2 linked regions of the Homo sapiens genome follow. The protein of the gene in region 2 interacts with the protein of the main gene of each other region in a pairwise test. Each region holds a gene or a part of one and is shown on either strand. Other genes may lie near its edges.

Region 1 (3,500 bases), on a different chromosome or scaffold from region 2:
AGCAGAGTGGCTCTGCCCTCTACAGGGGCTGGACTGAGTGTTCTTCAGGGCCTTTCCTGGCTCCAGGGGACACTGCTAAGCTGCCCTTGGCTTATTCCACGCATTGAGCACCTCCACATCCCCAACTAGAGCTGCCCTGGATGGGAAACTGCTTGTTCAGCCTGATGGAATTTTCTAAGCCCTGTGACACAGGGAATCAAAAAGAGCCTCAGCCGGGTGCGGTGGCTCATGCCTATAATCCCAGCACTTTGGGAGGTCTAGGGGGGTGGATAATTTGAGGTCAGGAGTTCAAGACCAGCCCGGCCAACATGGTAAAACACCATCATTACTAAAAATACATAAATTAGCAGGGTGTGGTGGCGAACCCCTGTAATCCTAGCTACTTGGGAGGCTGAGGCAGGGGAATTGCTTGAACCAGGGAGGTGGAGGTTGCAGTGAGCTGAGATCGCACCGCTGCATTCCAGCCTGAGGGACAGAGTGAGACTCTGTCTCCAAAAAAAAAAAAAAAAAAAAGACAAAGCTCAACTGGTGGTGGCGAACTTGGGCAAAATCACAGCATCAGAAAACCTCGGGACTGAAAAGGCCCTCAGAGGTGGTGTGACCCACAGTAAATTACTTGGTATCAGAAGACCTGGCTTTCGCCCTCTGCTGAGAGGCCTCAGGCAAACTATCAGCCTCTCTGAGCTGGTTTCCTTAGCTGAAAAAAAGGATAATAGTTTATGCCTCTAGAGCTTTGGCAGCCTCAGTGAATTCTATTTGGCTCTCAAGGCCCTGTGTGATTGGACCACTCCAGCCTCCCTGCCTCCTCCCTGTTCCTCCAAGCATCCAGCTAAGCTTCCAAGCACCGACACTTGTCTTTCCCTCAGGGATCGGCAGGCCACATCCCCTCCCAGTTCCTCCATCTCTGCTCAGATGTCTAGCTCCCCTACTGGAGTGAGACTGCCATGGGGGACTGAATTATAAATCTAGCCTCCTCATTTTACGGATGGGCCAGGGGGAGGCGGGTAAGTGGTGCTCTGCTCACCAGAGGGGCAGGATTTTGCCCATGTTAAAAGCCAGTAGGCAGCAGAGGCCACCTGGACACTTTCCCTCAGGCAGCTGCCCTCACTGTCCAGCAGGGAACAAAGTGACTTGCCTGCTGTGGCTTAGCTCTCCCTGGTTGGAAGTCCTGCTGCCCTACAGGAGGTAAGCCCCAGCCTGGAGAAGCCACACTCCTAGGGAACATATTCCTGAGAGTCCAAGAGGGTCAGCAAGGCTAAGCCCCAGAGACCCTTCCTTCCCGGCCTGGATTCTCAGAAGCTCCTGGCCCTGCTGGTGGGAGAAGAGAAAGCAAGTGGCCCCAACACCCTCTTTATGCCCTACTTCTGGCACACCCTTCTGAAACGTTCTGACCTCATCTGGGCTGAGGACTGAGACCAAGGGTCTGACCATCCTTGGCTGGGGAGGGGTTGGGGGGCTACTGGGGTGTTGAAAGAGGGTGCAGTGGGGGCAGCAGCACCTCCAGCATTCCAGCCTGGAGGGGGCTGGGATGGGTGGGATGGGAGGTCAGACAGAGGCAGGCCCAGCCCCTCCACATTGGAGACCCTTCCTCCCTGGGAGTCAGCCATCCCAGAAATGGCTTCTGGCTCTGGCATCCTCCAGCTCGCCCCAGCCCCACAGGATGCTGATGCTGCTCATCTGAATACTGCACCTTGAGAACCACTGTGTTCGAGCGATAGACTTTTCAGTTAAGGATAGCATTTCCCAGCTTCCCTCTGCACCTGGCTATGCCCAACTGTCTGGCTGATGGGATGAGAGCAGAAGTGACATATGCAACCGTAAAAGGTAAGGAGAAGTTTGTCTCCTTCCCTTCTCCCCTTCCTGCTGCTGATGGGAAAGCTCAGGCAGTCATTGTAGACCAGAAGATGGAAGCTGCATGTTGAGAACAGTGGAGCCACAAAACAGAGGGAGCTTGGGTCCCCAAACCTCTGGTGAGGCTACTTCCTGCTTATATCAACTTGACCATTGCAGGAGGCACAAAGGGACTCCTCCCCTGCTTCAGCCACTGTTGCTTGGGCTTCCCCAGCAGACCAGCTGTGCCCCATGACCACTTTGAATGAAGTCAGCTTAGGATAGAGGGTTGAGGGCTAGGGTGGCTGGGGGCATTCAGCACTGCCACCTCATGCTGAGGGCTTACAGGTGGCCAGGCCAGGGCCACACGAGGCAATGGAGCTCTGGGGCTCCTGCTTCTGACTGAGAGGCCTGGGGAAAAGAACACCCCACAGTGGAGGCAGGCAGAGCTCCACCCTGATGGAAGCTCTGCTTCCCACATGCTCACTGATGGGCTGAACAGTGCAGCTGCCTGGCTCCTCTGTTAGCAGCAACACTGCCTCCACCCCCTGCACTGAGACTACTGCCCTGGCCCCTACCTGTTTTGGTCCTGGGAGCTGCTCTCTGGGAGGCTGATGCCTTCCCTGGCTCCAGGCGTATCTTCTCCAGATGTTGCTCCAGCACCACGGTGCGGTGTCGCTCCTCCTGCAGCTTCCTCTCTGACTCCAGGAGCTTGCTGTTGCTCTCCTCCACCCTGGTGATTAGAGAGGAGGGGATGCTACATGCCCTGGCAGGCAGGGGCAGGCCCTACCCCACTTGCTCAGGCCCTTAGAGAGATGGGCACATCTTACATTGGTAGTGATGGGACCTCTTCATTTTCATTGCAGTAACACAGGAACATGCATTTAAACACCATATGGTTCTCTCCAAGGTTAAAATTTAAAAATTATCAGCCCACTCCCAGCCCCATCATTCCCAATTCCTGCTCTCTAAAAGCAATCACTTATAACACTTCTAGCTGTTTCTTTTAATATTTACTGCCATATTTCTACAGATGCTTATGTTGCTATTTTTAGGTTTATATAAGGTTTAAATATAATCTTTTGACTTCCTGTCATGCAAAATAAGAATTTAGTTTTATTTTAGTACTCTCCTCCTACGAAACAGAATCACCTGTATACGTTTTTGGATGAATTGATATTAGGTATCAGTTTTCTATCACAGCTATAACAAATTACCATAAATTTAGCAGCTTAAAACAACACAAATCTATTATCTCACAGTTCTGTAAGTCAGAGGCCTGGCAAGCTCAGTGGGTTTCTCTGCTTCTGGTTTCACAAGCCGAAATCAAGGGGTTGGCTGACCTGGGCTCTTATCTGGAGGTTCCGGGGGAAAATCCACTTTCAGGCCCATTCAGAGTGTTGACAGAATCCAGTTCCAGGTAGTTGAAGGACTGAGGTCCCTGTTCCCTGCAGGCTGCTGGTCAATTTCACCTTCTAGGAGCCACCTTGCCCCCTCCATCTTTAAAGCCAGCTAGATACCCTTAACACACTTTGAATCTCACTACCCTCTCTGACTTCCTCCACAGCAACTCTCTGAATAATCCCAGACGGAGATATTTCTCTGCTTTTAAGGGCTCAAAAGATTACATTGAGCCCACCAGATAATCCAGGATAATCTTTCCATTTTAG
Region 2 (3,500 bases):
GGAGCACCTCCAGGCCTGGCAGGGTCTGCACCCACCTGTCTGGACTGGGGGGCTCTCTGGGTCTCTTTCCAGACCCCCTGCCCACCACCTCCCTGGGGCCTGGCTCCATGCCCCTCTCTGCATGCTCAGGCCCTTCCTCTCTTCCGGTCCATTTGAACATACTCAGGTCCTGTGCACCCCAGAGAGAGCGCCCACGCTGTGTCCTGGGCTGCCACCTGAGGCTGCTCCCCTCACTCACAATCCCTGCCCTCGCTCCTTCAGGCTCTGCCCACGACTCCAGTGAAGCTCCTTCTCCCTCCTGGAGCCCAGAGCCAGGGGTCAGAGAGGTCCCTGGGGTGGCCCTGTGAGGGTCACTCTCAGTCCTCAACCTCTCCAGCCTACAGTGACCTGAGGGGCCTCAGGGAGAGAATCCTCCTCTGCCTTTGAGGGCGTCTGTGCGTGGTATGGCCTGGACGGGGACTTAGGCTCCAGCCTGGCCACTGAGCCTCGACAGCCGGGAGATGGGGCCACTGGCGTGTGGGTTACAGGGCGCCCTGACCTGCACTGAGGACGTACCTGGGGGTGGAAGAGCAGCGGGGACGGCCGCAGGTACTTCTCCTTCAGGGCTCCCACGGGGTCTGTGACCTTCCGCTTTTCTACCCTGCTGGACAACAGCACAGAGGGTTACGTACCCCACCGAGCCGCCCGCCCCGCCGAGCCACCCGCTCCACAGAGCCGCCCACCCCGCCTGACCATATACCTGGCCAGTCACAAGGCCATGGTGTGGACCTCGCCGTGGCTGCCCCAACGCTCACCAGACTCCTCTGTGGGCCTTGGGGATGTCGGGAGCCCAGCCCACCTGCACCCCTAGACGGACCCTCCCTGTCACCACCTGCCCCTGAACACTCTCCCTCAGTGGTTCCCTCACACCTCCCATGCCTCCAAGGTCCCCTCGAGGGCCTTCAAAGACCCCTGGCTGCCAGCACCCCTGCAGGTCATGGGTGCTAAGTGCAGGCGGCTGGAGTTTTCTCTGAAGGCCCCGTGCACCCCGGCCTAACTGGCCGGTCAGCCCTGCATGAGTGGGGACCACTCTGAAGGGGGTCCCTGGACCTGCTCACAGCAGAGCGTGGCTCACACCAGAGGCTCAAGGCCTCCTCCGCTCCTTCTCTGACCCGGCCCCTGGCACGGGGTGTGCTGCCCGTGTGTGCTGATGAACGTGAGTGGCCAGCAGGTTTCTGTCCTGGGGAGGTCACCAGGGGCTTCCTGCAGCACCCAGACAGGGCCCTGTCTAAACACCCTCCAGGGCTGCTGGAGATTACAGTTCCAGAACCTTCCCCAGATGCCGGTGACAAGCCTGCTCACTGAATCACAATGCAAACCTCCTGTGGTAAACAGAGGCCGTGGGCAGGGCTATCCACTGACCCTCCTTTGGCCTGGTGGCTCTTGAAGGCAGCCTGCTCTTCTCTGTCTGCCTGGGTTCCCATAGTGAGGGTTAGATTTGGGAGCCTCTTTCCCATCACTGAGAGCGCTTTGGTAAACCTGCCACCCCGTTGCAAGACACAGCACCCCCAGCATGTCTATGACTGGCCGCTTTTGCTTTATTAGGACAGGACTTGCTCAGGGTCTCCTGCCTGTCTCCTTGCATGGCGAAGCGGGGAGCACAGGGACAGGTGCTGGTGGGGGTAGGACCCCCTCCCCAAGCCTAGCCCTGCTCTTCCAACCCACCTGCATTCTAGGGAGGGGCAAACCTGTCCAGAAATTAGGGAGTGGCATTAAACTCGCCTTTCCCCAAGAGAGGCATCAGAGACACAGGACACTGGTGCCTAGAAAACCCTCCAATGCTTGCTTCATCCCTCGCCTCCTCCTCCCCTCCAAGGACCACTGGCTCCTTCTCTGATTCCCCCGGGGCCCCCAGAAAGACACCCCCTCCCCATTCCCCCTGCCGCTGTGGCTCCAGGGGCAGGAGCGCACCAGGAGGGGCAGGAAGCACTCAGCCCAGGCCCCTCTGACTTCTGCAGGTAGAGGCTGGGGAGAGCTAGACCAGAGACGACAGCTGGAGAGAGGGGTGGGGAAGGGTGTGGGTTGGGGTGGGGGGTGGGGTTACTGGGGATAGGAGGCGCTCGAGGCCAGCAGTGTGATGTCTGAGTGGTCATCGGTGCAAGCAAACTGCACGTGTCCAGGAGCACCCGTCCTGGCCTCCCAAACACGGCCCGGGCCAGGCACCTAGCTTAGGAGCAGCCAAGCCAGGCATCCCTCCTGAGGGGTGCAGACCCCCCCAAGAACAGGGGCATCTTCCTGAAGTCAGCAAAGGCCGGGGGACGACCTTGGAGGAGCTTGAAAGAGACACCACCATGCACTGAGCCCGCCCAGCACCGCCGCGGCCCCGCCCCAGGGAGAGCCAGTGAGGCTGGGGTGCTGAATACCTGTAGATGGGGTCCATGAAGAAGGGCGAGGGCTTGGCGTAGTGGAGCGGGGGCTGCTGGGGCATCCGCGCCGGGCACACCTGGGGCAGCCCCTCGCCGGCGCCCAGCTTGCGTTCCCCATAGACGTGGTTCTTGCGGGGCTCCCGCCCGCCGCCGTTTTGGCTGGCACGGGCCCGGCTGCCGATGCTCAGGTCCAGCGGCTGCTCCTCGCCGGATGCGGGGGCCGAGGGGCCCTTGGGCATGGGCAGGATGGGCTTCACGTCTTTGGGCTTGGTGGTGAGATCAAAGGGGCACTCGGCACTGGGGCCGCCCACCTTGAGGGCGTCCCGGGGTGACTTTGGCTCGGCCTTGACCAGCAAGTTGTGGGCGAGGGCTCGGTCCGTGAAGGGGTAAAGGGAGTGGGGGAAGTTGGGCAGGAACTGGAAGGGGAACGCCGAGTGGTAGGGGAGCGAGCCCAGCTTCTTCTCCTGCATCCCCATGAAGCCGGGGCCAAAGTACTTCTCGGCAATGGATGCGATGGCCTTGATGGAGTCCCCGGCGGCGCCCGTTGCAGTCAGCAGCTGCTCGTCGGGTGGCGGGAAGAATGAGTGCTGGGAATAGAAGACAGGCACCTCGGCCACGCTGTTCGGGGCCCCCGGGGGCGCCAAGCCGCCCCCAAACTTGGGCTGGCCCTCGGCGGACTTGCCCTTGCCCTTGTCCTTGTCAGGGTCGCTGTCCACGTCGCTGTCCAGGTCCGAGCCCGTCCCCGTGGTCGTGTCCAGGTCGGTCCCCGTGGTGGTGTTGACGTCCTCAAAGTCACTGCCGTCCGACATGTCGCTGCTCCTGGTCTTCAGCTTCTCCACACAGGAGTCCTCCAGGCGGCTCTCGAACTTCTCCTCGGGCCCCGCAGCTGCCGTCGTGCCCTGGCTGCTGTTGCTGACGGCGGAGACCAGGGGCAGGGCTGGGTTCCCCAGGGGACTGGGGAGCTTGGCGTCCTGGGTGTGGTTCAGGGGGCTCTTGAGCAGCGATGTGGGAGGTAGCAGAGGCGGCCGGGGGTACAAGGATGGAGGGAAGATGCCCGGGAAGCCGGGGGTGAGTGCGGGGAACGTGGGAGGCGCC

Evidence for each region.
Region 1: the proteins of PRDM16 (region 2) and CCDC13 interact in a two-hybrid assay, tested with the Homo sapiens proteins (one large-scale study listed by BioGRID).

The regions. Positions count from the first base shown.
Region 1 is NC_000003.12:42,710,754-42,714,253, forward strand, and holds part of CCDC13 (coiled-coil domain-containing protein 13), read right to left. Parts: intron 2,564-3,500; coding exon 2,409-2,563; intron 1-2,408. UniProt on the Homo sapiens protein: Required for primary cilia formation and promotes the localization of the ciliopathy protein BBS4 to both centriolar satellites and cilia.
Region 2 is NC_000001.11:3,411,703-3,415,202, reverse strand, and holds part of PRDM16 (histone-lysine N-methyltransferase PRDM16), read right to left. Parts: coding exon 2,403-3,500; intron 644-2,402; coding exon 556-643; intron 1-555. UniProt on the Homo sapiens protein: Binds DNA and functions as a transcriptional regulator. Displays histone methyltransferase activity and monomethylates 'Lys-9' of histone H3 (H3K9me1) in vitro.